Regions from separate parts of the Homo sapiens genome. Here region 2 is linked to region 1. Evidence: fine-mapped QTL for protein levels in blood plasma. Region 1 holds a variant in brackets. A gene starts in the other region. All regions are shown on their forward strands. Region 1 holds the start of FCN2 (ficolin 2). Region 2 holds the start of KIF22 (kinesin family member 22).

The links. A credible set is the group of variants that fine-mapping cannot tell apart. PIP is the posterior inclusion probability: the model's chance that the variant is causal. Protein levels are from antibody-based Olink assays in UK Biobank. Linkage for the fine-mapping came from a reference panel and not from the study's own genotypes, which makes the PIPs less certain.
Region 2: KIF22 starts here. The variant in region 1 is the best candidate, but not a certain one, in a credible set for the plasma level of the KIF22 protein (UK Biobank, PIP 0.71).

What each region holds. Positions count from the first base shown.
Region 1 is chr9:134,875,594-134,891,117 of GRCh38, forward strand. FCN2 (ficolin 2) reads left to right here and starts at 5,217. Exons shown (of 8, transcript NM_004108.3): 1 at 5,217-5,328; 2 at 6,933-7,046; 3 at 7,709-7,762; 4 at 9,147-9,179; 5 at 9,646-9,773; 6 at 10,175-10,304; 7 at 10,837-10,971; 8 at 11,575-11,930. The coding sequence starts at 5,229. The coding sequence ends at 11,822. RefSeq lists an enhancer at 14,212-14,712. The variant G/A (reference allele first, on the strand shown) is at 8,615.
Region 2 is chr16:29,784,035-29,792,499 of GRCh38, forward strand. It overlaps KIF22 (kinesin family member 22), which reads left to right and starts at 6,717. Exons shown (of 14, transcript NM_007317.3): 1 at 6,717-6,795. The coding sequence starts at 6,726. It overlaps LOC124903675 (a long non-coding RNA gene), which reads right to left and starts at 1,299. Exons shown (of 2, transcript XR_007065048.1): 1 at 923-1,299. LOC105371167 (a long non-coding RNA gene) reads left to right here and starts at 3,479. Exons shown (of 2, transcript XR_950983.1): 1 at 3,479-3,512; 2 at 3,888-4,089. RefSeq lists a silencer at 252-391 and enhancers at 1,248-1,337, 6,128-6,527.

The DNA of each region.
Region 1 (15,524 bases):
AGGAAGTGGCCATTTGGGGAACCCCATGGGACAGGAATTGTGGGTAGTCTTTAGGAATAAAGGGCATCTTCCAACCAAAAACCAGCAAGAAAATGTATCCCTCAATTCCTATTAATACAATGACAAGGGTTTGCAGTCTGCCCCTAAACTGAACCAGCTTAAAAACAGACCACTCCCCAGTTGAACCACGGATGAGACTATAGCCCTGTCTGATACCTCAATTGTTGCTTTTGAGACCTTAGCAGAGAACCCCAATAAACTGTGCATGGACTCCTGACCCACAAAAACTATAAGATAATAAACAGGTGCTATTTTAAGCTGCTAAGATGTGGTAATTTGTTACACAATGATAGAAAAGGAATACTTTTTATTCTTCATTTTTGGAGAGCCTTTTTCATCTGGAATGGATGAAAATGTTCAAATCTTTTTCTGTTTCTTTTGAGATGATAGTATATCATTTTTAATTTGGTAAGCTAGAGAATTACATTGATTTTTAAGAGGTAAACAAACATTCTATTCCTGGGCTAAACCTCACTTGCTCATGATACATTATTTTCATAGACAGGTTCAGTTTGCTAAAATTTTGCTTAAAATTGTGGTATCTATGTTCATGAGGGCTATCAGTCTATAGTTATTTTTTTCTTGCAATGATTTTTATCTACTTTTGCTATTGGGGAAATGCTGGCCTCATAGAATGAATGATAAAGTAGTTGTAACTTTCTGATTTTCAGAAGGAATGTGGGAAGAATTGCTATTATTTCTTCCTTAAATGTTTGGTAGATTTCATCAGTGACGCTGTCTGGGCCTGGAGATTTTTTTGCTGGGCTCTCTATTCTGTAGACTCTCTATTTCTTCATGGGCTCTCTTGTCTGTTCCATTGGTCTATATGTCTACCTTCACATCAGTACCACATTATCCTGATAAACTTCTTTATAATAAAAATAAAGGCTTAACTACAATTTCAATTTATTTTATATGTATAGTTTTGTTTTGTTTTGTTTTGAGGTGGAGTTTCCCTCTTGTCACCCAGGCTGGAGTGCAATGGCACGATCTTGGCTCACTGCAACCTCTGCCTCCTGGGTTCAAGCAATTCTCCTGCCTCAGCCTCCCGAGAAGCTGAGATTACAGGTGCCTACCACCACACCAGCTAATTTTTGTATTTTTAGTAGAGAAGGGGTTTTGCCACGTTGGCCAGGCTGGTCTCGAACTGACTTCAGGTGATCTACCCACCTCGACCTCCCAAAGTGCTGGGATTACAGGCGTAAGCCACCACGCCAGTTGTTTGACTTAGGTATTTCTTGAGTGACTTTGGTGGTTCAAAGAAATTGTCCATTTCATTTCCACTGTTGAATATGTTGGTGCTAAAGTGTCTTAATATCTCCTTATATTCCTCATAATATCTGTAGAATATGTAGTGAGGTCATTGATCTCTTCCTAATAGTGATATTTTGCATTCTCCCTCTTTTTTCTCTTTTCTTCAGTCTGACTAGAGGTTTATAAATTTGATTTACCTTCTCAAAGAATCAGCTTCAGGTTGTATTGATTTTCTGCACTTGTTCATTATTATTCATTCTCTTTTTTCTACTTTGGATTTAATTTACTCTTGTTTTTCTAGTTTCTTGAGACGGAAGCAGAGGCTGTTGACCTGAGACCTTTCTTCCTTTTTAGTGAACATTTCACACTGTAATTTGCCTCCCAAGGAGTGCTTTAGGAACACCATGCAAACTGTATTTTACTGCCTTTTTGTTTTCATTCAATTCAAAATTCTTTCTAATTTCTCCTTTGGCCTCTTCTATTTCCTATATCTTATTTAGAAGAATGTTATTTAGTATCCAAATATTTGGGAGGATTTTCTAGACACCTTTCTTTTCTTGATTTCTAATTAATTCCATTGTTGTCCGAGAACATACTTTGTATGGCTTGAATCTGTAGAAGGTTGTTATTTTAGTGGCCACGTTAGAATTTGTAGTAAATCTCTTCCATGATCACAGTTTACCTTCCGGCAACATGAAGCCACTGCTGTCTGCTACAAGAGTCTCATGGCCGTGTTCTCCATTTCTCTCCTCCTGGCCTTTGTGAGATGGTGGTCATGTTAGAGACCTCACAGATGGGATCCATGCCTGCCTGGTCTGTCTCCTGTGTACAGCATCACCTGTCCTAGAACAGCCGGCACCCTGAGGGTGGAGACCTGGGCTGAGGCACAGAGGTAGCTTGTGTGGGAGGGAAACTTCTGGAAGGGGGATGTGATGGTTAATACTGAGTGTCAACTTGATTGGATTGAAGGATGCTAAGTATTGATCCTGGGTGTTTCTGAGAGGATGCTGCCAAAGGAGATGAACATTTGAGTCAGTGGGCTGGGGAAGGCAGACCCACCCTCAGTCTGGTGGGCACCATCTCATCAGCTGTCAGTGAATAAAAAGCAGGCAGAAAAATGTGAAAAAGCGAGATGGGCCTAGCCTCCCAGCCTACATCTTTCTCCTGTGCTGGATCCTTCCTGCCCTCGAACATCAGACTCCGAGTTCTTCAGTTTTGAGACTCAGATTGGGTCTCCTTGCTCCTCAGCTTGCACACAGCCTATTGTGATCCTGTAAGTTAATACTTAATAAACTCCCCTTTATATATGCCTATCCTATTAGTTCTGTCCCTGATTAATACAGGGGGGTAGAAAAGGCCCTAGTTGGGACCCGAGGAACTAGGGCTGGAAGCCAGCTCAGCCATGAACTGGCCATGTGCCTTGCGGGAACTTCTGCCCTTCTCTGAGCCTCAGCCTCCTTGCCCGTAACAAGTGACGTGACCCCTGGAAGCACCCCTGACCAACATTTACACTGGTGCCTGTGAGGGCTTTGGTTTTTGTGTGTTATCATCTGTGGGCAATTTTGAGTTCACCAAAGACTTTTCAGGTCTTCCTTTGCTTTCTAAAACGAATTCAAATTTAATTATGTCCATTTATTAAAAATCTTACTTTAGGGCCTGGCGCGGTGGCTCACACCTGTAATCCCAACACTTAGGGAGGCCAAGGTGGGTGGATCACCTGAGGTCGGGAGTTCGAGACCAGCCTGACCAACATGGGGAAACCCCATCTCTACTAAAAATACAAAAAGTAGCCGGACATGGTAGTGCCTGCCTGTAATTCCAGCTACTCGGGAGGCTGAGGCAGGAGAATCGCTTGAACCCAGGAGGCGGAGGTTGTGGTGAGCCAAGATTGTGCCATTACACTCCAGCCCGGGCAACAAGAGCGAAACTCCGTCTCAAAAAAAAAAGTGTACTTTAAAAGCTGCATTCTGCCTTCATTTTAAAAGTGTGACTTATAAACCTTATTATTCTATCTTTTAATAACCACCTATAAGGAGCCTGTGAATAATTCTTGGTCCATTCCTTAACTTAGCCAACTAAACACCTTCAAACATTGTTACTGCATTTATACATTTAATAGAACCACATTTATCCTTTAGTACCTTGTCTAACTTTAAAAAATCCTTCTGAATATGAACTGCTAGAAATGTAATCATTTAAATTCAGCATGTGATAAACTCAGAGTTCCAATAAAGTGATTCAATAGTTTATATGAATTCGGTAAGTTTTCCGCATAAATGCACTCTGCCAAATCAATTACTCAATTGGCCATTTTCTGTTGAAGTTATCCTGCACCCACTCCAATAGGCCAGATTCTCTTGATTATTGCAAGTACTTTAAATAGCATATTTTTTTAGATTTCTGAACACTAAAATATTAATATAATGTCTTTGGGCTTTTAAAGCCTTCTAGACTTAATTTTAAGTCATCTAGGTTTGAAAGATGCTTCTATTAGGAAGGACAAATAGCATGCAGTAAAGGAACCTGCCTAAGGACTCGGAATTTTGGCTGCTGGGGTTTCACTGGGCAGCTCTGGGGACCTGGCTCCTCTGCAGGTGACTTCAGGACTTTGAGGAAGATGCCCCCAAGCCATCTTTCTAGGTTCCATATCTGCATCTCCATGGAGCCTGTGTCTTCCCCAGGTTCATCCCTGGACCTCATCTGCATCTGGCATAGCCTTAATTAAGTCTTGAGAGGTCTGCCCTAAACACCACGGAACCCGAGGGGGGTCTTAACTAGTCATAGTCTCAGGACCACACATCTCCATGGGCATTGAAGGAAAATCCGATGGGATTTTGTTTCTCGCGTGGCTTTGCTGGGCTGGGGTCACAGTTTAAAATCCTTCTACTGATCTTGCCAAGGAAGAAGGCACCTCGGCATCCCGATGGCAGCAGGTGGCAGGGTGCGGTGGTGGTAGTGGGAGGTGCAGTGCTGGTTCCGTCTCTGGGGGCTTTAGGTATACGGCCTCTGGGGCCCCACCTGCTACTGTCTCTGTCTCTAACCTGGCTCAGTCCAAGGCGAGAGTGCACCTTCAGGCCAGCTCTTCTCCAAAAGGCGAACACAACCACTGAAGTAAGTCCACAGCCATCCTACAGGTGGGATGTCTGGCCTCAGGGCTCAGGGGGTTCCCTGGGCCCTAGGAGTGAAATTCACCTACTCTCATCCTCCCTACAGGCTAAGCCCCTGCATTCACACTCAAGGTCTCCCCTTCAGATGTGTACCTGGGTCATAGTCCCCCAGGCTCCCCACTCTTCTCTCCTTTCCCTCCTGTTCATGTGCCCCTGTGCTCTACATACTGCCCCAGGAAACAGTGGACACACACGCATTTTCCTCTCCTTTTCACCCTGGCAGCCTGCCTGGACCTCATAGTGGCAGTTTCCAAGCCTCCTGAGGAGAGTCCCAAGTCTGCTCATGATGTGGTGAGGGTTACTGTGTAAGGCCCACACCAGTGGCCCATGACCAGCCCTGGCCATGAGGACTCTAGGTATTCGGATAAGGGAGAGAGACCTCTTTGAAGCAGAACATCTTTAGCAAACCCTTCCTTGTTCCCCGTTCTCAGCTCATGGTGACATCTGCTCACCGCTGAACAAAGGTGGGAGGATGGGCCTGGGCTCTTTGCCCAAGGCCACAAGCAAGTCAGCCTGTTCCCTGGAAGGAGACCGTCCCCCTGCAGGGATGACAGTCGCCATGGGATCCCCAAGGGGCGGGGGGTAGGGAGCAGCCCTGGAGATGATCTCGCACCTCCTGCTGGCGTCACCAAGCCCGCGGAGAGGAAGCGGCTGTCACTCGGAAGATGAGAAATTGGAGTCTGAGGGAGGCTGGCTTCTCTAGCCCTATAAGAGGGCAGGCACCTTTTGAAGCAAAGACCAGAAGAGATGGAGCTGGACAGAGCTGTGGGGGTCCTGGGCGCTGCCACCCTGCTGCTCTCTTTCCTGGGCATGGCCTGGGCTCTCCAGGCGGCAGACACCTGTCCAGGTAAGGGCACTCCAGGGCCTCCTCCTGGAAACTTCTCGTCCCTGAAAGCTGGCAGCTTCGTGATTGGTGGCTTCCTGGCTTCCAGGCCTTGCACCAGGCCGTGTGGAGCATCGTCTAACGAGACAGCAGCTCTGCATGCCTCATCTTATGTGAACAAACGCAGAGGCCCCGAATGGATGTGGCATCTCAGAGACGGAGCTTCCTCTGCTTGCCCTCCCATAATGGAAACCGAGGCAGGTTTCCAGTCTCCCTGGGCCACATGTCCCCCTCTAAGCGTAAAAAGCGTAGTCATGGTGTTGTGTGGGGAGGTGAGGCTTGTGGTGCCAGCTGGGTAGACACCAGTCAGATATTCTGCCATGGTCGCCATCACAGAGAGACAGGGTGTGAGGTGGGGATAAGCACCCGGAAAGACAGGGTGTCAGGCGGGGATGAGCACTGCAGGACCTTTCCATCCAGGACCTGCTGGGCTCTGGAGATGGCAGTTCCCATGGTGTCCCTGATGCGGCACAATAAGGGTGGCATTGTCCCCGTGAGTTCTGGACCTCCTTCGGGGCTCCCGAGGGGACACTCGGGTGCCAAACCATGGGCTCCGGCGCATGCGAGGGCAGGTTGAAAATGCAGGTTCTGGAGTCAGGTCCTGACTCCGTCTACCCGGGGCTGGGATGCAGGGTCAGGAATTTGTGATGCTCCTGATGCTTGCAGAGATTCGTGTCAGGATTTCTGGAATGCATGTGAGACACAGAGCTCTGCGGTGTGCTGTGACTAGCATCGCATTCAAGGAGCAATCCGTGGCGTGAAGTGTGACACAGGCCAGGAACAGCGGGGATTCGCTTGGAAACTCCTAGTGGCTCGTTGTGGAGTGGTGGGGTTAGGGTGGCATTATTTTCTTCCTTAAATACTTCTAGAGTTTCTAAATGATCAAATAATAGCACGTGTTATTTTTGTAACACACTCACTTGAATTTGAGTTATCTAATTAAAAACAACAAGCTGCATTCCAGCTCTAGTTTCGCACCAACTTGTTCAGTGTCCTTGAAGGACGCCTCCCTCTGTGGAGGAACAAGGTGGACCCACAGGAGCCCATCCACTCTCAGATCTGCTCCAAGATCAGGCGTGGGAGTTGCAATGGTAGCCTCTCTCCCTGTGTCCTTCTCACCCGATATTGATTACAATGATATGATAGATGAGAACAGACGAGATTAGGATGCTGTCTTAAATGGTAGGAGCTGAAATGAACCTGCACCCCTCGGTAGGTAAGGGAACAGAGGCTCAGAGGGGTTAAGGGACTTGTTTCAGGACACACAGTACTGAGGAAGTAAGGTTTGCCTTCAGGCAGGGTAGCCTCCAAGGCCAGGGTTCTGCCCCAAATCACCTTTCTGCCTGACCAGTGCCCAAGAGGTGAGGACAGACCAAGTGCCCACCAGGGCAGGAAAACCTCCCTTCCAGGTGACCCTCCAGCTGAGGGAGGTGGCTGTGGCTATAGCCATCTGCCCAGTCCTGATGTCACCAAGATGGCAGATGCCTTTCAGTTGAGTGGTATATCTATGGCTCAGTGGAGTCTTCAGGCCCAGGTGACACTGAGTGGCCACCTGTGTTTTTCTGCAGAGGTGAAGATGGTGGGCCTGGAGGGCTCTGACAAGCTCACCATTCTCCGAGGCTGTCCGGGGCTGCCTGGGGCCCCTGGGCCCAAGGGAGAGGCAGGCACCAATGGAAAGAGAGGTAGGTGCAGGCATGGCTGGGGGCACTGGCTCTTGCTCTTTTTGAAACCAGATGCTGAGTTGGGCAACACCCCCACCATGGTTCCTAGATCGAGAGCTGGGTCAGGCCCCTGCAAGAGCCAGGAAAAGAACTGACTCCCAGGGCCCAACAGGGTTCTGACATGGAGGGAGCGTCTTTCTTAGCTATTTCATGAGCTCACATTTGGACATGCTTCTGTAGCTCTGTCTCCTAGTCCTTGATCCAATACCAGCTTTGCTCGGCCGCTGGCACGACTTCAAGCTCTGTGTCCCTCCACCTTCCCACCTCAACACGGAGGCCATGACACTCTTCTCCACCTGTCTCAGATGAGGAAACTGAGGCTCAGAGAGTCCAGGGATTTCGCTCTGTTCTCACACTTGGAAGGAAAAGAGCCGAGATTCTACCCATGGTCTCTGGATTTCCAGCTCCCGGCCCCTGAGTGAACAGGAGAGCCCCGTGAGGCCTGGGTCCTGGATCTAGAACCTTCTGGTGCAGGATGGGCAAGCCTGGGCGGGGCCACAGTCACGTCGTAGCACGAGCAGGGTCATGGTCATGATTGGAAATGACAGCCGCCAGCTCCAGGGTGGGCCCTTTGATCCTGGGCTGGGCAGTTTTCCTCAAGTCAGTGTCTTTGGAAATTGCAGGAGAACGTGGCCCCCCTGGACCTCCTGGGAAGGCAGGACCACCTGGGCCCAACGGTAAGGAGGGGACAAGAGTGAGAAGCGGCTTCAAGGCCCTTCCAGACCTGGCTGCAGAGGAACGTGAGGCGGGTCTTCTGGGGCTGCCACGCTGTCCTCGCCAGAGCCAACGCCTGCCCAGGCAGGGCTCTTGGGGCTTAGTCCAGGGCAGGGGTCTCAGTGTGGGGGAAGGGGTCTCAATGTGTGTGTGGGTTCTCAGTCTGGGGGAGTGGGGTTATCAGTGTGGGAGCTGGTCTCAATGTGTGTAGGGGGTCTCAGTTTGGGGGAGTGGGGTCATCAGTGTGGGGGCAGGGTTCTCAATGTCGGAGGAGGGGTTCTTGGTGGTGTAGGGAGAGGTTCTTGGGGTGTGTGTTGGGGGAGGGGTTCCCGGTGGGCAGGCTGTGGGGAGGTGTTATCAGCAGGGAGGGAGGAGCTGTCAATATGGGGGAGAGATTCTGGGATGGGGGAGAGGTTCTGATTATTCGGGGAGGGACTTTTAGTGTGGGGAGGGGTTCTTAGTGGGGGGGCTGTCTGTATGGGGGGGTTCTCAGGTAGGGGAAGGTTTTCAGTGCAGGAGCATCTGCCCTGTGGGTGGGCCTGAGACCAAATCCTGTCCCTCTAATGTGGAAGTGGTCTTGAGAGGGTGGGGGGGGATTGTCTGCCCACCTCTCTAAGCCTCACTCAGTCCTGGCCTCTGTCCCCTGAGCATGAGGCCCTGTCTTGTCCCCTCCTCCTGACTCTGCTTGAAAACCAGGATCAGCCCCGGATGGCTTGGAGAACCATGCCAACAAGTTCCAAACACAGAATTAGTGGAAATTCTCTGCTTTAAAACAAAGAATTTTCTGATATATTTTCTTGAGGAATAAATTTTGA[G/A]GAATCGGAGAAATACGCAGTAGGAAATTGAAGCTCCCTTTACTCACTCACCTTTACCCACAGACCTACTCAGAATAAGACCACCCTACACTCACCAAACCCCAGGCTCAGTCATGGGTTGTGTCTAAACATAAAATACGCAGGTTTGGTGCCCACACCGCAAACAACACTCCCCACATCATATTACTGTGTCCACCAAGATGGGCTGTTTGCAGGCCTTGGGGCCTCAGGAGAAGCCTGAAGATCCAGGCTTCCTTTAGTTGGCATGTGGAGGCCTCAGCAGTCTCTGGGATGGTGGCCTCTGCTTCCCCAGGAACCTCTGAAAGGGGTGCATGTGGTGGAGGGGCCAGTGTAGGCATCCCTCGAGGGAAAGAAAAATTTGGTCAACAGAACCAGGGTCAGGGACTCCTTGGCTGGACCCATACCATCACCTCCTGGGGAGGCCCAGAAAATGGTGTCCGCGGACCAATGGGGGCTGAAGGGCTCTGATTTCCAAACTGTGACACGTGTGTCCTCTCTCATCCATGAACAGGAGCACCTGGGGAGCCCCAGCCGTGCCTGACAGGTGACTGACCACCCCCACACTCCTCCCACGGCTTGTGGCTGCCCTTGGCTGGAAGTCCAGGGTCATACGACGCCATTGCCAGAATGAAGTGACAAATATGAACAGAAGAAAATGGTTGCTTGCCCGTTTCCTTGTCCCCTAATTATTCAAGGAAGTGACAAATATTGTCCAGACAACTTACATACACTCCATGGCAATTTTTTTCTATTTATAATCTACGCCAGAAGGCCGGGTGCCCAGGAGCTGAAGGTGGGGGTGACACTGGGAGGTGGGAGGGCCAGGCCAACTGGCTGCGGCCATCACAGCTGCGTGGCCCTGGGGGCCGTGTCCCTGTCCAGGCCTCAGAGTCCCGCTCTGTTCATACAGACGCCTATGGCCCTGCTTCTTCCTCCCAGGCCTCCCTCCTACTGCCTGTGCCCTGCCCAGGGCTCCTGTCCTGCAGCCATTCCCCGGGTTCCCTTCCCAGGCCCGCGTACCTGCAAGGACCTGCTAGACCGAGGGCACTTCCTGAGCGGCTGGCACACCATCTACCTGCCCGACTGCCGGCCCCTGACTGTGCTCTGTGACATGGACACGGACGGAGGGGGCTGGACCGTGAGTGTGGGGCTGGGCAGAGGCGGTCAGCCTGGGAGTCCCGGAGGCCAGGCTGCACACCTGGTGGGAGAACACACTCTGGAATTCTCTATTCTCCTGGTCGGGGACAGTCAGAGATGATGGGGGAGATGACCGGTGGGTAAAAGTCCAGGCCTTTGGGGGAGGCTGGGAGAGGTTGGGTGCTCTCCTGCTGTGTGGCTTGGGGCTTGTTGCCTCCCCTCTCTGAGCCCCCATTTCCTCCTTCATCCTGTGGAGTCTGTGAGGAGAACAGGTGGGCGTGCTGGTGACCCCGCCTGTGATGCTCTGCCAACTACAAATGCTGCTCCTCTGGAGGGCGGGTCCCCCGTGCTGTGGGACGTCGGCCTGGCCCCCCCGGCTCCTGTCCCCTGGCTTCTCCACAGGTTTTCCAGCGGAGGGTGGATGGCTCTGTGGACTTCTACCGGGACTGGGCCACGTACAAGCAGGGCTTCGGCAGTCGGCTGGGGGAGTTCTGGCTGGGGAATGACAACATCCACGCCCTGACCGCCCAGGGTAGGGCCGCTGCTGGGGCTTGGGGGTCGGGGGCCCTGAATGGGGGTGCCCCTGCCTCTTGGGCCTGGGCTGCCTGGAACACAAGAGCCTCTTGGCCCACAGGGGATTGGGCCCTGAGCACACTCAGGGTGGCACTGGGACCTCCGAGGGCTTCGTCCCTGCTGCAGGCTCTGGCAGCATCGGGACGGGAGAGGGTCAGAGCTCTGGGATGAAGGCCTCTTCAGGTCTTGGCCCCACTGGCATCTCAGGTCCTGAGAGGGGAAGGAGGGACACAGTGGCCCCATAGTGGAGTTTGGGCCCAACCCCAACTCTGCCTCTAATCCGCTAGGATTTGGGAGTCAAGAGTCTTGCCCTGCTGCTCAGCACACCCTGCCGGGTCAGAGCTACACAGGCCCCGGGGATGCTGCGGTGCTCTCCGCCCTCTGCCTCCATGGAGTCCAGACCTCCTTCCAGGCCCTGCCCCAGATCCCCAGCTCCCATGTCTAAAGGTAGAGAGCCCTTCCGCTGAGACCCTGAAACCTTTCTCTAACAGGAACCAGCGAGCTCCGTGTAGACCTGGTGGACTTTGAGGACAACTACCAGTTTGCTAAGTACAGATCATTCAAGGTGGCCGACGAGGCGGAGAAGTACAATCTGGTCCTGGGGGCCTTCGTGGAGGGCAGTGCGGGTGAGTGTCTGCTTGGGGCTGTGTGGCCTGGGCTTCTGAGGGGGGTTTGGGAAGTGGAGAGAGCGTGCTCAGTGTCCTGGTAGCCTTGTGGAAGAGGCCTCACCTCTCTGAGCCAATTCGTCCATCTCTACATGCAGACACTAACATCTGTGCTCTGTGTAGCATGGGGGTCATGGGACACATCAGTGTATGACTGCAGAAATCCCAGCAAGGGCATCTGGTAGGAAGGAAGTCTCTGCAGAGCAGGGACCTATGCACGGTGACAGCAGCTGATATCTCTGCGGGGCATGGCTGGAAGGGGTCTGCCATGATGGAATCCAGAGTAGAGAATGATGATCCTGACCCCTGCCTCCTGTTCTTCTGTGAAATAAACATAGTACACATTAGGTGGCAGGGCTAGACCTAAAGACAATTTGCCAAGACCACTGCCAACAGCAGGGCAGTATTCACTGGAGTCATGGATTGCACTTCTTGGATTGTGCAGTGCACAACCTGCCTAACCATACATGGAGGACACACCAGGCCAGGCCTCAGGTATAAAGACTTATACTGTCTGTAATGATGTTACTGCCTGTAACGATGCTCACATTTCCTCCTGCACAGGAGATTCCCTGACGTTCCACAACAACCAGTCCTTCTCCACCAAAGACCAGGACAATGATCTTAACACCGGAAATTGTGCTGTGATGTTTCAGGGAGCTTGGTGGTACAAAAACTGCCATGTGTCAAACCTGAATGGTCGCTACCTCAGGGGGACTCATGGCAGCTTTGCAAATGGCATCAACTGGAAGTCGGGGAAAGGATACAATTATAGCTACAAGGTGTCAGAGATGAAGGTGCGACCTGCCTAGCCCAGGCCGGCCTCAGGGTCAGGACGCCTCCACACATAGTTGGTTGGGGGGTAGGGTTGGGAGCTTGGCCCTACGGTTTGTAAAAGAAACACATGTCGTGATTCTAAATTGGGTTTGTCTTGCTGTGCGGAAGAGGTTCAAATCCAGCTCTGTTTCCGCAATCAACCCTTTCAGATTTGTGACATTAACTCACCTCAAACCTCTGTCTTTCCTTGACAATGAGTAAGAATGTGTTCCTGACCATGCCAGCAGGAACCTTCCTTAAGGACAAATACAAGACTTTGAAGCTGCGATGGGCTCAGAGTGCAGCCCTGCTCAGGTCCCTGGGCAGGCTAAACGCCTTCCTGGGGCTCGACCATCTGGGCTTCTCTGTGAGCTGGATGGCAGGGAAGTCAGAAGGCACATTGGAGAGGAAGTTTCTCTTGCACTCAGAGATGCCGTTGCCTGTCCAAGGCCCCCAGCCTCGTAGCCGCAGCTCTGCTCACTCTCCCCCGTCACCCAGGCTTCCTGCCGCCTGCTGTCCTGGGTATTCGTGGGATCTGCTCGCTACTTCCTCACAAGCCGAAGCAAGAGTGGCAGTGTGCCTGTGACTCCCTCATCAAAACGGAGAGAGTGGTTACATGAGGCAGGTGTGAGGGACCCGAGCACTCCTGAGGAGGGAAGAACACTCCTCTTGGCCATGAGTGTCCATCCCAAAGCTGCCCTGCAGCCTAGCCCAGTGCAGATTGAATCAGAAAGCCAAAGCCCCTTCCACCCGCTTCTCTCAGGCAAGCTGCCTGCAAGAGAGAAAAGTGTATTAGTGCAGGAGCTTGTGTCTGCTGAGGATGGCACCTGGCCCTCTCCTCTCACCACGTCCGGGTCCTCCTGAGGACCGGTCCCCTGTCCCCGGTCCCCAGCCAGCTCAGCCTGACCAGGCTTTTAGAGGCTCCGCACCCCAGCATCGGCCAGTGCTGACCCTTGTACGGCTGTTTGGGTCCCCGATCACTCTCATAACAGCCCTGCCCTTGTCCTATACCCTCTACTCAGAGAGGATCCAGAAGGGTCCAAGGAGGCCATGATCCCTCCCTGAGCTTTTTCACGCGGGCCCCCTCCTTCCCCTACGAGGGTCCGTCCTGGGTCTTAGCTGGTCTAAGCCCTACACAAGTCATGGAGAGGGCTGTGTGTCTGGGACTTCTCGGGGGAGAGTGCACTGTTTCCTCTGAGTTCCTGGAGGGGGTGCGCCATGAAGATCAGGACACAGCCATCTTCACCTTCCCTCCTCACTCTGGGTCCGAGGCCTGGGATGAGCCAGGACAGCGGGAAGCAGGGATGGCCCTGGGCGTGGCACTTCCTTCCTTCCTGGGCCCGCAGGAGGGGGCCACACCACCCACCCAGGGGGCTGACCCGTCCTCAGGACAGAAACTAGCAAGCTGTCAAACCTGAGGGTTTATAACTAAATGACGGGGTGCTGCCCCTGGAAATTACACCCAGACATCTCTTTTCTCGTAGACCTGGGTCCCTAGCTTTTAGACAGGATGACAAATCACTGACAGGTGCTGACTTTACATGCACTGTGGCCTCACGCTTCAGCCATTCACTGCCAGGCAGTCTTCTAGGGCAGCAAAGAGCTCAGCCACACAGCCCGGGCCACTGTCAGGATGAGACCTGGCGTCAGACCTCCTCTCAGCGCCGCTTACCCCCCATTCTGGGCATTTCAATCTCCAACAGGAGATTTAAATGAAGAAAACACGCACCTCACACAGCTGTAAAGGGAGGAACTGGGAATTTCTCCCAAATCTTGACCCTTGAGTTCTAGAAATGGGGTTCTCCCTGGAATGCATGATGGCATTATTCTGGAAGGCAAAAATAAAGCTATTTAATATAGAAATGTTTTTAGCCTGACAAGCCAGAGATTTTTAAAAATATTGTTTTTTTAAATTTTCTTAATTGAGAGATGAGCTAAAAAGTAACTTTTTCTAAATATTTAATGTAGCTTTGCTATACTTTATAAATACTGTCAAGCTTTGGGGGGGTTTGTTGGGATAAGAAAATGTACTTATAAAAATGCAGTCAGTATGTCAGGAGGCTGGCGTAATTAACACAGCACAGGGAGGTCATGGAGGCTTGTGTAATTAACCTAACATAACATAAATGTATTTGCATGACACGTGCATCGCATGTGCATACGTGTGTGTGTGTGTGCACCTGCGGGGCCTCTGGGAGGTGTAACTGAGGCAGGCATCGGAAGGGCTCTGTAGGACCAGCTGGTACTGGGTGGGCACCTGGGAGCCACAGGTGCCTGCTTCTCCCATCCCCTGAAAGACTTGGCTCCTTCAGGCCACCAGTGCTGCCTCAGGGTGTCTGGCTCCCCTCCAGAGCAGGGGGCTGAGCCAGGTTGGAGCCTAGGCCAAGGCCAAGAGTGTCCCCAGGGCTGGGCTGTCCCTGTCCCTCTGCTGGGGACCGCTGCCTCCCTTCCTGCTCTTCAGAGGTCTCAGGCCTCTGCTGTCGGGAGGGCTGGAAGAAGGGGCAGCAGCTGGCAGGGGGCCTGTGCCCACTAGACCCTAGATTCTTAACTGTAACTGTGGTTTCTGTGGCCAGGCTGGGGGTGACAGAGGCATTCAAGCCAGACTCCATCTTGAATAGGGGCTGGGTGAAATGAGGCTGAGGCCTGCTGTGCTGCAGTCCCAGGAGGTTAGGCATTCTTAGTCATAGGAGGTTGGCAGGACGGGTATCACAAAATACAGGTCAGGATGCGGTAAAGAAGACGGCCAAATCCCACCAAAACCAAGACAGTGACAAAAGTGACTTCTGGTCGTCCTCACTGCTCACTATATGCTAATTATAATGCGTTAGCATGTTGAAGGACACTCCCACGACAGTTTGCAAACACCATGGCAACTTCCGGAACTTACTATGTATGGTCTAAAAAAGGGAGGGACCCTCAGTTCCCTGCCCCTTTCTTGGAAAACTCATGAAAGATCCACCCCTTGTTTAGTATGTAATCAAGAAATAAGTATAAAAATAGCCAGTTAGCAGTCCTCAGAGCTTCTCTGCCTATGGAGTAGTCATTCTTTTGTTTCTTTACTTCTTTAATAAAGTGGCTTTTACTTTATGAACTCGCCCCAAATGCTTTCTTGTGAGAGGTCCAAGAACCCTCTCTTGGGGTCTGGATAAGGATGCTTATTTTCCCCAAAGCTGTGAAGCCTTGCTTTGGCTGGAGTAACTGACATTGAAACCGCCACTGTAAAATTATGACTGAGACAATGAAAGAGATCTGACTTAACCAACTCCATCTTGCTTCTAACCTCCAAGCTGTGCTTGTTCATTCCTAGGCATAGGCTGAACTAACTTTGGGAGGAACTTAGTTTATAGTTCAAAACAAAGATGATAATAGCCCTTTCCCAAAACCTCCTTCTTGCCTGAGGACTAGACTCCTTTTGTAGGACAAATTAGCCACAAGATTAGAAATTATGGTTTAGGAGTCATGCAGCTGAAGGCTACACGATTCTGACCCTCTCTCAACTGCTCCTGAAGTCAGTACTTGGGATATTTTGCAGACCTTGCACTTGATGGATCAGCTGGCACCACCCAGCTCAATAAACTGGCTCGTCTGATCTTGTGGCCCCCACCTAGGAACTGACTCAGTGCAAGAAGACAATTCTGACTCCCTGTGATTTCATCTCTGACCAATCAGTATGTCCAGCTCTTTGGCTTCCCCCCAAC
Region 2 (8,465 bases), not on the chromosome of region 1:
CTGGTTCTTCTGATACCCAACACCATGGCTCACAGCTGTAATTCCAACACTTCCAGAGGCCAAGGCAGGAGGATCACTTGAACCTTGGAGTTTGAGGTTGCCATGAGCTATGATTGTACCAGTGCACTCCGACCTGGGTGACACAGTGAGACCTTGTCTCTAATAAGAAGAAAAAAATGCCATTTTAAAAGTGTACACTTTCATGGTTTTTAGTATATTCACTGTATTGTACAACCATTACCACTACCTCATTCCAGAACACTTCCACCACCCCCAAAAGAAAGCAGTTACATCTGTTCACTGTAGTGCCAATTACTCAACCCCTTGTCATCCCCTGGCAACCACCACTCAGGTGTACTTTCTATGTCTGTGGGTTTGCTATTGTAATTTGAAAGTTCACTGATGTTACTTTAATTTGGTTTCATTTTGAATACAGTAAATATGGATCAAAACCCATATATACGGAGCATCTTTAGAGGCCTCATTTTTGTTTTTTTTTTTTTTTTTGAGATGGAGTCTTGCACTGTTGCCCAGGCTGGAGTGCAGTGGCGTGATCTCGGCTCACTGCAACATCCACCTCCCAGATTCAAGCGATTCTCCTGCCCCAGCCTCCCCAGTAGCTGGGAATACAGGCGCCTGCCACCACACCCTGCTAATTTTTTTATTTTTAGTAGAGAGGGGTTTTCACTATGTTGGCCAGGCTGGTCTTGAACGCCTGACCTCGTGATGCACCTGCCTCGGCCTCCCAAAGTGCTGGGATTACAGGCGTGAGCCACCACGCCCAGGCTAGAGGCCTCATTTTTTAAGACTAATGGGATCCCAAGGCTAAACGTTTGAGAAACACTGATCTAAGATTTGTGTTTTGTTTTGTTTTGTTGTTCAATCAAGTGGAACATAATGTCTAAACCAGGGCCTTACCTACCTGGAACTCAAAGGTGGAATGACCTTCCCTGGCCAAGCTTCCAGAAGGGACAGGGAGCTACTTAACAGACTGCTGGACCCTTAACGACTGGAAACCGGAACCGTGGGTGACGGAACCGACCAGACGTGACAGCCCTTTGGCTGGGGCTGCAGTCCCACGATCCACACAACGACTCTGGCTCCGCAGACGCGCCAACCACCCACGGAGGCAAGAAACTGCCGAGAGTGAAGGGAAAGGGAGCCCAGTGCTGGGCGGCACTCAGCAGCTCCCCCAGCGGCCACTGTCGCCAACGTCTCCGCGTCGGGGTTTGTACCGCAGCTCGCGTCCAGTCGTCAATGGCTGCGAGGCCCATGCGCGCTCCAGCGTCCTGACCAGGGGAACGTTTTCCTTAGGGACCCGGAGGCGAGCGCTGGAGGGAGGGATGGTTGCTAACGCAACTCTCTGCAGGGCAGACCCACCAGCACCCGCACGCAAACTACGGGCTGGAGCAGTCTAACAGAAACTCTCTCAAAGTCGCTCACGGGTTGCCATTCTAGGTAAGATTTGTGAATAAAACTAATTCTTTAAAAGCCTGAGTTTTTCTTTAGTTGACAGTTTTAATTAACATACTCTTTTCTTTCCTCTTCTGCAGACCCAGCCTCACCATTCCAATGAAGACATCAATTAACCCATGCACAGCCGCTACAAACGGGGAGCTCATTGCCTGCAGGGAAGGACCCTCTACAGAGAGCTACCTGGGGGCTGGGAAGCAGGACCCCAGGCTGAGTCCTGCCTTTTGGTAGTGCCCCGCCCCGGCCAATGCGGCTGTTATATCAAAGTACATAAAAGTGAAGGCAAAGGGTGTCCACGTGGGATAGACTGGCATAGCTTCCTGGCCACCCATGGTGCTCCATTATCTCTTCGAGGACCCCTTCTCCACGAGACCCTCCAGGTCTGGTCCTCTATCGTCCAGCCCCCATTCTCTTCTCCATCACTGCTGCTGTGTCCCAGATGACCTTAATTTAATCTTCACATATTTGAAGGACAGAATCATCGGCCTCACCCACTAATTATTATTATTATTATTTTATTTTATTATTATTATTTTTTGAGACGGAGTCTCGTTCTGTCACCCAGGCTGGAGTGCATCACTGCAAGCTCCGCCTCCCAGGTTCACGCCATTCTCCTGTCTCAGCCTCCCGAGTAGCTGGGACTACAGGCGTCCGCCACCACGCCTGGCTAATTTGTTGTATTTTTAGTAGAGACGGGGTTTCACCGTGTTAGCCAGGATGGTCTCGATCTCCTGACCTCGTGATCTGCCCGCCTCGGCCTCCCAAAGTGCTGGGATTACAGGCATGAGCCACCGCGCCAGGCCTAGACCCACTAATTATCTTTTATGGCACAAACTCTATGTTTTACTTTTGCCCAGGCTGGAATACAATAGCGGCATGATCTCCGCTCACCACAACCTAGCCTCCTGGGCTCAAGTGATCCTCCCACCTCAACTTCCCAAGTAGCTGGGAGTACAGGCATGCGCCACCACACTTGGCTAATTTTAAAATGTTTTGTAGAGAAGGGTCTCACTAGGTTGCCCAGACTGGTCTTGGACTCCTAGACCCAAGCTATCCTCCCACCTTAGCCTCCCAAAGTGCTGGGATTACAGGAATGAGCCACTACATCTGACCTCCTTTGCTTCTTTTAAAGACATAGTTTGGAATTTTTTTTTTTTTTTTTTTTTTTGAGACAGAGTCTCACTCTGTCGCCCAGGCTGGAGTGCAGTGGCGCCATCTCGGCTCACTGCAAGCTCCGCCTCCTGGGTTCACGCCATCCTTCTGCCTCAGCCTCCCGAGTAGCTGGGACTACAGGCGCCCGCCCCACACCTGGCTAATTTTTTGTATTTTTAGTAGAGACGGGGTTTCACCGTGTTAGCCAGGATGGTCTCAATCTCCTGACCTTGTGATCCGCCCATCTCGGCCTCCTAAAGTGCTGGGATTACAGGCGTGAGCCATCGTGAGCAGCCTTTTTTTGAGGAGTCTCCAACTGTCACCCAGGCTGGAGTGCAGTGGTGCCATCTCGGCTCACTGCAAGCTCTGCCTCCCGAGTTAACGCCATTCTCCTGCCTCAGCCTTCCGAGTAGCTGGAACTACAGGCACCCGCCACCACGCCCAGCTAGTTTTTTGTATTTTTAGTAGAGACGGGGTTTCACCGTGTTAGTCAGGATGGCCTCGATCTCCTGACCTCATGATCTGCCTGCCTCAGCCTCCCAAAGTGCTGAGATTACAGGCGTGAGCCACTGCACCCGGCCTGGAAGTTATTTTTTAAAAATCAATTGTTTCTTTCTCTGTCATCCCAGCAGGAGTGCACAGGCATGACCTCAGCTCACTGCAACCTCCACTTCCTGGGTTCAAGCGATCCTCCTGCCTCAGTCTCCCAAGTAGCTGGGACTATAGGCACATGCCACCACATCTGGCTAATTTTTTTTCTTTCAGATGGAGTCTTGCTCTGTCCCTCAGGCTGGAGTGCAGTGGTGCAATCTCAGCTCACTGCAACCTCCAACTCCTGTGTTCAAGTGATTCTCCTGCCTCAGCCTCCTGAATAGCTGGGATTACAGGTGTGTGCCACCACGCCGGGGTAATTTTTGTGTCTTTAGTAGAGACAGGGTTTCCCCATGTTGGCCAGGCTAGTGTCAAACTCCTGACTTCAGGTGATCTGCCCGCCTCAGCCTCCCAAAGTGTTGAGATTACAGGCATGAGCCACCACGCCTGGCCAAACCACCCTAATTTCTACCAGCCAGATGCAGATCCTTAAAACAACCCTAGGAGGTATTTCAACCATTATTCCCTTTTAATATCTGAGGAAATGGAGGCACAAAGAGGCTAAATCTCTGGTCTGGGCAGCCTGGCACCAAGGCCCTGTACCTAAATGGTTTATTCAAACATAGAAGCCCTATCTCCTTGATCTATGCTCTTTTCACTATTTCTGGCAGGTTTCTTACCAAATATCTGGAGTTGACAACAAATGTGAAAACTGAACAGCCTTTTCTGACAGGCAAGGAAGACCAAACTGCCAATTGCCAATGTCAGATGTTCTCAAAGTATGGTCCAGAGACTTCTGGGAGTCCCTGAGACACTTTCAGTGGGTCTACAAGTTCAAAACTATTTTCATAATAAAACTAAGATACCAATTGACTTCTCTTGCATTGTTTCTCAAGTATATAGTGGAGTATTCAAAATACTATATTATATGTGACATCACAACAGCATGAATGCAGAAGCAGATATGAGAATCTAGTTTTTTTGTGTGTCTTTGAGACAAGGTCTCCCTCTGTCACTGAAGCCAGAGTGCAGTGGCACCATCACGGCTCACTGCAGCCTCAAACTCCTGGGCTTAAGCAATCCTCCCACCTCAGCCTCCCAAGTAGCTGGGAATATAGGTGTGTGCCACCATGCCTGGCTAATTTTATTTTTTAAGAGATGGAGGTAGGCCAGGCACAGTGGCTCACGCCTGTAATCCCAGCACTTTGGGAGGCCGAGGCGGGTGGATCACGAGGTCAGGATATCAAGACCATCCTGGCTAACACGGTGAAACCCCGTCTCTACTAAAAATACAAAAAATTAGCCGGGCGTGGTGGCAGGTGCCTGTAGTCCCAGCTACTCGGGAGGCTGAGGCAGAAGAGTGGCGTGAACCCGGGAGGTGGAGCTTGCAGTGAGCCGAGATGGCGCCACTGCACTCCGGCCTGGGCCACAGAGCGAGACTCCGTCTCAAAAAAAAAAAGAGATGGAGGTCTAGGCAGGGCTTGGTAGCTCACGTCTGTAATCCCAGCACTTTGGGAGGCCGAGGCGGATGGATCACCTGAGGTCATGAGTTCAAGACCAGCCTGACCAACATGGAGAAACCCCGTCTCTACTAAAAACACAAAATCAGCCATGCACGGTGGTGCATGCCTGTAATCCCAGCTACTCGGGAGGCTGAGGCAGGAGAATTGCTTGAACCCAGGAGGCGGAGGTTACGGTGAGCTGAGATTGCGCCACTGCACTCCAGCCTGAGCAACAGAGAGAGACTATGTCTCAAAAAAAAAAAGTGCACACCTCTCTGGTTTTTAGTATGTTTATTACGTTACGCAGCCATCATCACTACTTCATTCCAAAATATTTAATATTTCCATCACCCCCAAAAGAAACTCGTTATATCTATTGCTGTAGTGCCAGCTCCTCAGCCCCTCACCATCCCCTGGCAACCACTACTTAGATGTCCTTTTTATGTCTATGGGTTTTTTACTGTAATTTTTAAATTCATTAATGTCAACTTTAATTTAGTTTCACTTCACACACAGTATATACGGCCAGGCCTGGTGGTTCACACCTGTAATCCCAGCACTTTGGGAGGCCAAGGCGGGTGGATCACTTGAGGTCAGGAGTTTGAGACCAGCCTGGCCAACATGGTGAAACCCTGTCTCCATAAAAATACAAAAATTAGCTGAGCGTGGTGGTGCACACCTGTAATCCCAGCTACTCGGGAGGCTGAGGCAGGAGAATCACTTGAACCCAAGAGGCAGAGGTTGGAGTGAACCGAGATTGAGCCACTGCACTCTAGCCTGGGAGATGGAAGTGAAACCCCGTCTCAAAAACAAAAAAACAAAAACCCTCATATACACAAAACATCTTTGGAGGCCTCATTTTTAAAAACTGTAGTGGGATCCCAAGGCAAAACGTTTCAGAAACACTGATCTAAGATTTGTGTTTTTTGTTTTGAGACGGAGTCTCACTCTGGCGCCGTGGCTGGAGTGCGGTGGCACCATCTCGGCTCATTGCAACCTACACCTCCCGGGTTCAAGCGATTCTCCTGCCTCAGCCTCCCGAGTAGCTAGGACTACAGGCGTGCCACCATCCCCGGCTAATTTTTGTGTTTTTAGTAGAGACGGGGTTTCGCCATGTTGGCCAGGCTGGTCTCGAGCTCCTCACCTCAGGTGAGCCTCCCGCCTCAGCCTCCCAAAGTGCTGGGATTACAGGACTGAGCCACCGCGCCCGGCCCGTGTTTTGTTTTGTTGTTCAACAGGGTGGAACATAATGTCTAAACCTGGGCCCTACCTACCTGGTGCTCAAAAGTGGAATGACCGTCCCTAGCCAACCCTTCAGAAAGGACAGAGAGCTACTCAACGGACTGCTGTACTCTTAAGGACTGGGAACCGGAACCGTGGGTGAGTGGGACTGAATCACAGACTAAGCGTTTTCCACGCTTCGCCGACGTGCTGAGTGCCAAGTTATAAAGACAGGAACATCCAAGCTGCTCTCCTGGGCTGACACGGACGCGAGGGGACCTACAGTGGCCTTGGGCCCAGCAGGCAGCGACTGCAACGTGACTGCCCAGAGTCCAGCCCCTGGGGCCCAGATCTACAGAACCGACCAGACGTGATAGCCCTTTGGCTGGGGCTGCAGTCCCACGATCCACACAACGACCCTGGCTCCGCAGACGCGCCAACCACCCACGGAGGCAAGAAACTGCAGAAAGTAAAGGGAAAGGGAGCCCAGTGCCGGGCGGCGCTGAGCAGCTCCCCCAGCGGCCACCGTCGCCAACATCCCTGCGTAGGGGTTTGTATCGCAGCGCGCTTCCAGACATCAACGGCTGCGCGGCCCACGCGCGCGCATGCGTCCTGACCAGGGGAACCTTTTCTTGGGGACCCGGAGGCGAGCGCTGGAAGGCGGGATAGTGGCGACCCACACGCAGCAGCTTCCGGCGGCGCGTAGTCTTGATTGGTGGAACCTGGGAGAGGGGGCGGGGCACCGGGGAATTCGAATGGGAGAGGCGGGCCCAAGGAGGGAGTGGAATGGCCGCGGGCGGCTCGACGCAGCAGAGGCGACGCGAGATGGCGGCAGCTTCAGCGGCGGCGATCTCAGGTACTTGAGCCCGGCCTGGGCAAGGCGGGTACCGACGTCTGGAGTTTAGTGGGAGTTATGTGTCGGAGTGTGGTCCAGGCTCTGCGGGTTGTCGCGGAGAGGCGGCCATGGCGCAGGGGCGGGGAGAGGGGGACGGTGAGAGTGTGGGGTCGCGAGCCGGTCGCCCCGCCTGGCTCCTGCCTTCTCCCTGTTTCCTGCTCTCCCCTTGGGTCAGTAGACTCGGGTCTCCGGTCCAGGCTCTTGGCTTGAACCCCGCGCACTTTTTCTTTGTGAGCTTCGGTTTCTTCGTCTGTGAAACGGGGGTCATGGCCTCATCCCTGGAGATCACCTGAATAAGCAAGAGAAGAGTGGCGGACGCTCTAGCCACGAGGACGAGAAGAAGGGAGCCGGAGGCGTGTATTGGGAAGGGTTCTGTGTGGGACATGGTGTTTGGGTGCAGAGACATCCCTGAGAGATGCAAGAGGACGGGCTGAGGAACAGACCCGGCTGCTGCTGGGTTTGAGTTGGCAGCGTAAGATGCTCTGCGATTACAGGAAAACGAAATAAAAGACTAAAATTTCCTTTCACTCTAGCATGGAAGTGAATGCTATTTTAGGGTTGGAAAGGCTGTTAGGACACCCAAAATCTTGTATGTGAGTATTTGTTTACATGTGCCTCTCTAACCCGGAGACTTAATCCTCGTTAGTGATGATGGTGAGCGCCATAGTAATTCACTGGAGCCCTCGTTAGCCTCGTGGGGAAACAGACATTTAGGAGAATGCCTAACACATGTAGAGCTCTTGCTATGTGCCAGGCACAGTTGTAGGCATTTTATGGTGGTGAACCATTTATTGTCCACACAATGCTATCAGGTTGTTACTATTACTGTCTTTGTTTTACACAGGAAACTGAGGTTAGTTTGTTCAGAGTTAACACAACTAGTAAATATTGGGGCTTGAATTCGCTCTCAAGGAGTCTGAGTGTAGAACCTCTGCTCTTAACCATTATGCCCAAGTACATGTTATCCCTGCTGGCTGAGCACAGTCTCCCCTTACCCTTCGAAGATGCACTGTGTCCGGTGCATGGTAGATATGAAAATGCCTGAATGAATAATGTCCCTTCCTCGAGGAATTTACAGTCTGTTTCAATAGAGTGTCACATACGTAGATGTAATACGAAACACAATGAGAGATGTGTATAAACTGAGGGTGTGGAATCTGAAGTAAGCCCTTGAGTATTCTGGGAGGACTTCATTAAGGGAGTGAATGATACTTGAGATGGGTTTCAAAGGTTGGATAGGAGTTTGCCAGGCCTTGACTAAGAAGACAAGAACAGCAAGTGTTTTCTTATTTATGATGTAAGATGCTCTCTTAGCTCAATTTCCTCATCAATAAAAGGGAGAAGAGTGAATGAAATTTAGGAATTGTGAAAGAAGGGAAAATTAATAATTGCTAGCCTGGTCCAAGCTCAAGGTTGCTTTTATCATGAAAGGGCTAGACTCTTGTGCAGTAAATAATTGTTTACATGTGGCCCTCCCCTCTTCCCTCCTACCCTGGACTGTGAGCCCTGGGGCAGGAATGGCCGTGAGCCATTTTCATGATGGAAATGAACAAGCCAGTGATTAGTAGTTTATTCACTAAATCTTAATTTTTTTCAGCAAATACTTCTTGAGGGCCTACTCTGCGCCAGGT